Regions from separate parts of the Homo sapiens genome. Here region 1 is linked to region 2. The links come from fine-mapping of genetic effects on gene expression. A gene starts in region 2. The other region holds a variant in brackets. All regions are shown on one strand. Distances are from middle to middle.

What was found. PIP is the estimated chance that this variant, and not a neighbour inherited with it, causes the effect.
Region 1: its variant is the best candidate, but not a certain one, in a credible set for the expression of COTL1 in spleen (GTEx, PIP 0.74).

The regions. Positions count from the first base shown.
Region 1 is chr16:84,547,845-84,550,853 of GRCh38, reverse strand. No RefSeq gene overlaps it. Among named protein-coding and RNA genes, the nearest start is that of MEAK7, 45 kb to the right of the region's middle. RefSeq lists enhancers at 1,213-1,962, 2,714-3,009. The variant G/A (reference allele first, on the strand shown) is at 1,495.
Region 2 is chr16:84,616,946-84,619,445 of GRCh38, reverse strand. It overlaps COTL1 (coactosin like F-actin binding protein 1), which reads left to right and starts at 1,368. Exons shown (of 4, transcript NM_021149.5): 1 at 1,368-1,608; 2 at 1,863-1,945. The coding sequence starts at 1,532. RefSeq lists silencers at 1,110-1,469, 1,490-1,539.

The sequences.
Region 1 (3,009 bases), 69 kb after region 2:
ATCAAGGAAACTGATGAAATTGCATCAATTATTTGCATGTCGTTAACAACACCTCAAGGAAAATGTTCATATAGAGATATCTCATTTATTGAAAAAGTCTCCAGTATTTGAGATTATGGAGATGAACTAGTCCCCTGTTGACAGACACTGTTGAGGCTGACGTCTATACCCCATAAAGGATCCTACCAACGTGATGGGGGTATCACTCTGTGATTAGATTAGAGTGTGTTTTATGACATTGTTGACTTTGAGAATGGGAGATGACCCTCAGTGGGCCTGACCCAATCAGTCGAGCCCTTAAAAGGGCTGGGATTCTTTCTGACAGGGAGATTGTAAGTAGGAGAGGGATTTGACTTCAGGGAACAGGGAAATTCTCCATTGTTGCGGGGGGTGGGTCAGAAAGGCCTCCAGGAGGTAAGGATGGCTCATGGCTCTCACAGTTGGGAAATACGGGAACCCCTGTCTTAAAGCCACCAAGTGATCTCAGAAGAGGCCCTTGGGCTCCAGGTGAGAATGCAGTGAGCTGGCACCTTGATTTTGGCCTTAGGATGCCCTGAGCAGAGAGTCCAACCGTGCTTGTCCAGACTTCTCAACTGCAGAACTGTGACATCACCAGTGACTTGGGTGTTTTTATGGGGAGGGAAGAGTGTTGTCTGAAGTCATCAAGTTTGTTGTACTTTGTTACACAACAAAAGAAAACTGGTAAGGCATTCCTATGGTTTCCAGCAATTGCGCTTTTAAGGAACACTTCTGTCTTGAACCTCCTTTCACACAAGTCTTTATTTCAGAATTTCTGTGGGGTGGATTTCTAAAAGATTTTTGGGCTAACCATTTAAATTATCGATGTGTGCTGCATGAGCAGTGGCTCATTCCTGTCATCGCAGCACTTCGAGAGGCCGAATTGGGAGGATCACTTGAGGCCAGGAGTTTGAGACCAGCTGGGGCAACAAAATGAGATCCCCGTCTCTACAAAAAATAAAAATTAAAAATTAAAACATAAAAAAGGACATTATGGATGTGAATTACCAAATTGTCCTCCCGAAGCCACGTGTTGATTGACAGTCTGCCCCCTTTCCCCTGCCCTCACCAACAATGGATATGAGTCATCTTTTTTTAACTGTGGTAAGATACACGCGACATAGGACTTACCATTTTAACTATTTTAAAGTGATCCAGTCCGTTGCATTCAGCACACTCACGATATTGTGCCACCCCCGCTGCTCTAGCCCCAGAACTTTCCTGTCACCCCAAAAGGAAAACTCGTATCAATTAGGCAGTCACTCCCCACCCCCTCCCTGGCCCCCGGCAGCCACTCATCTGCTTTCTGTCTCCTATCATTAATCTTTTACTTGTTGCCAATCGGATACACAAATAGGGGCATTTATTTCAAGCTGCTCTGATGACAGGATGTGCACACAGCTCTCTCTTCCTGGAACTCAGACAAGCGCATGTCCCGGTTGCCGACAGAACGGCCCCACCACAGGTCAGGGCTCC[G/A]GACGCATGGACACATTCTCTGCCTTTCCTGCTTCTCCCAGCAGGCCCTGTCTCTGCCACCTCCCCATCAGCCCCGTGTTCTCCAGCTTGAGACCTTGGCATGTCCTTCCTCCATCCTCCTGCCTCTCCTCCTCCACCCTCTGTATCACTGGTGGCTGATTCTAAGTGGGCAAGGCCTCCTGCGTCTCAGCCTGCCTCCCTGCTCGGTTGAGACTCTCGTCTGGCATGGGGTTGGCTGCCCCGGGGCATCTCTGGGCAGGGGACTGGGGATCCAAGGCCTCCGGGGCCTGGCAAGTACGGGGAGGAGGGCTGGAGGCTGGGCACCAAGGAGACAACAGGGAGAGGTGGGGACTGTGGCCAGGGGAGGGCGCGTGTCTTTCTAAAGAGGGCAGCTGCATGGTGACTGTGTGCTCCCAGATTTTCTTATTTTCTAAAGGAGTCCTAAATATAGATATTTATATACAAGTGATTGACATTTCATCAAAACAAGCACATTCTCATTACCCTGGCCAACCAACACGGAGGAGTCGGGGTGGTGGAAGCAGGCAGCCACTCGCCCCACAGGCTGGCTCCGTGTGAGAGGCGAGGCGTGGAGACAGCAGGTCTCCAGGTTGCTGGAGGCTTGAAAGCCTGAATAGATGCACCCGGCTGCATCTCCAGGTCCCCAGGCTCCTGCCAGGCCAGGCTCTTTGTGGATTCTAGAACATTCTCTTCAGCTGCCTGAGCCCCTGTGGCTGTTTCCATGGCCCTGCAGGGTCTGAGGGAAAAGTGAGCCCTGTGCTGCTTTTTTTTTTTTTTTTTTTGAGATCGAGTTTCACTCTTGTTGCTGCCCAGGCTGGAGTGCAATGGCACAATCTCGGCTCACCGCAACCTCCGCCTCCTGGGTTCAAGTGATTCTCCTGCCTCAGCCTCCTGAGTAGCTGGGATTACAGGCATTTGCCACCACGTCCAGCTAATTTTGTGTTTTTAGCAACGACAGGGTTTCTCCATGTTGGTCAGGCTGGTCTCAAACTCCTGACCTCAGGTGATCTGCCTGCCTCAGCCTCCCAAAGTGCTGGGATTACAGGCGTGAGCCACCGCGCCCAGCCGTGTGCTGCTGTCTTTAGAGCCTCTCGAGGCCCCGCTTTCGGCTGAGCACCCCCCCCCCTCCTATGTGACATGGAGATGCCCCAGGCCTGGGATTGTCCCCGTGGATTTGCGAGCATCTTGGGCAGATGCTGTGGGAGGGCCTGACCTCTCCTGCAGGGTGAATGAACTGTTTGTGTATGTGTGTGGGTTGGGCGGGTGGGTGCTGGGTTATTCCTGGGCTGACAAAGAGACCCCAACCCCAAAGCCCAGCCTCGGGAAGCAGGCTCAGCCCACCAGCTGTCAGGGAGGGATCCCGGGCTGGGGGAGTTGGAGGGGGCTGTCAGACAGAAGAAAATGTTGCCTCCCACAAGCCCCTGGGGGCCTTCAAACCCGGCCCCTGCTGAGATGTTTTTCTAAAAGGCTCTTCGTGGCAATAGCCATTAGGCC
Region 2 (2,500 bases):
TTTGTTTTTTTGCTTGTTGAGAATTCTAACATTAATTGGACATTGTCCCTGACCTTTTGGGTTTCTATTTAGGATTTGTTTTTATCACTTAATAACCAACAATGATGACATTTTATCGAATGTCTAGTATATTTGTTCCAAGTATCATTTCAATTACACTTAAAACAAAGCAGTGATGTCAGTTATACTATTTTTCCCATTTGAGGAGTCATTTAAAAGAGGTTTTGAGGCTTTCCAATGGCCCCCAGTTGGAAAGTGGCAGTACTGGATGCAATTCAAGAGCCCAGTCTTCAGGATCCTGCCTTTTTACCTACCTGGACGCTGTAACTGGTCTCTGTGGAATGGCTGGATGAGGGAATGAATGAATGAGTCAGTGAAGGAATGAGGAAGACAGAATGAGTCAGCTCGTGCTTTCAGAGGAGCCCAAAGGGAGAGGTTAAGATAGGAATGCAAATGACCAGAATCCAGAGTAAACGCGAGCCCACCAGCGTTTTGGAAGCAGTCCACTTTCTACCCCCTCCTATTTAAAATGCTTCATTCTTTCCAGTTCCTCCCCACCTAGAATCCATGGAACCAAACGCTGGGGTAGGGACAGTGGCCAGCCTGTCTCCTTGGGTTTGACGCATTACATCATCCACGTGGAGGTCCCCTGTGGAGCTCTGCAGCCCTGCAGCCTCAGGGGCAGGGGGGTGGGGAGAATGAGGAAGGGGGAGAGGGGGAATAGGAGGAGGGAGTAGGGGACAGGGAGGGAGGAGATGCCAGGAGGGTAAGTGGAGAAGAGGGAGGCGAAGCCGGGGGCAGCAGGGGAGGGGGTCAAGGAGGAGGAAAGAGGAGAGCTTGGGGAGAAGGAAATAGGGAGGATGGAGAAGTTTTGGGCTGGGATAGGCAAGAAGAGGGAGGAGGAGAGAGGAAGAAGAATAAAGGGGGAAGGGAGAAAGAGGGGGAGGGAAGGGAGGGGGAAGAGGTCAGGGAAGTGGGGGAAGCAAGCAGTGGGGGAAGAAGAGGAAGGAGGAGGGAGAGGAGGAAGGCGGGGTGGGAAAGGGGGTTGGGGTAGTGGGAGTTTCCAGGGAGGGGTCGGGAGGGGAGGAGGGGAAGTGAGAAGGAGAAGGAGAGAGAAGAGGGATGTTGGGGGAGAAGAGAGCGGGAGGGAGGAGGGAGAGTGAGAGGGAGGAGGCAAAGCCCCTACTCCAGCCCCCACCGCGGAGTTGCGCAAGCCTTCCGGTCTGGGATTGGCCGCCAGAGAATCAAGACGCTCCGCCCCCGCAGCCCGACGGCCAATGAAGAGGCGGGCCGCCGCCTGGGCGGCCAATGGGCGCGGGGGGGCGGGGCGGGCCACGGCCTGGGGTCCCCGCGCGCTCTCCGTCCGCAGTGGAAGCCGCCGCCGCGCTCGCAGCTTGCAGGCGCCGCGTAGCCGTCGCCACCGCCGCCAGCCCGTGCGCCCTCGGCGCGTACCCGCCGCGCTCCCATCCCCGCCGCCGGCCAGGGGCGCGCTCGGCCGCCCCGGACAGTGTCCCGCTGCGGCTCCGCGGCGATGGCCACCAAGATCGACAAAGAGGCTTGCCGGGCGGCGTACAACCTGGTGCGCGACGACGGCTCGGCCGTCATCTGGTAGGAACTTTTCATTCGTCTCCACGCCCCGCTCCCCGGGCTCGCGCGGGGCCTCGTGCACCGAGCCGGCCTCCAGGCGGGACGGATTCGGGCCTCCCGCGCTGTCTTCCTCGCCTTATTCCGGGACGGCGTGCCAGGCCCCCGCGGGCTTCTCCGTGGCCAGCGCGTCTGTTAGATTGTCCTCTGCAAGCGCCGCGTCGCGCGGCCACCAGCGCTGATGTGTGTGTGTGTTTTTTTCTTCTCCCAACCCAAAGGGTGACTTTTAAATATGACGGCTCCACCATCGTCCCCGGCGAGCAGGGAGCGGAGTACCAGCACTTCATCCAGCAGTGCACAGGTAGGGAGGCGCGCCTGCCGGGCGGATGCGCGGTCGTTGGGAGGTTGTCTGCACCCGGGGAGCCCCGGCCAGAGCGAACCCGGGAGGAACCGGTGGCCACATGGGGTGCCCCTGGCGCATGGCGTGGGAGGAACCCGGTGTGAGCGTTTTAAGGCCTCATAAAACCTTCTCCCCTCTGGACATCCGAAGCAACAGAAGTGACCCACCTGCCTCCGCCATCCTACAATGCCTTCTCCAGGCGGGGCAGCTCTTTTGCCCCCTGCGGTCCACTGGTTTTCTAAGGTCAACTCCTGTGTTTCCAAACTCCAGTGTCCATCCAGCTCTTCCCACTGTCCCCTTTGATCAGTCACTGAGCCCAAATACGAACAGGCTAGGGGGCTGCTTGGAAGGGAAAGAAACTCAGCCGCGCCCTCCTTTCTCCCGCTATCATTGTCTGCCCGTGTGCTGATTTTATGTGATTTTTAATTTGACGAGTAGAATCAGATGCAAAAGAGTACACACCATATGATTCCATTTAGAAATCCTAGACAAGGCGAAACTAATCTATGGTGTGAA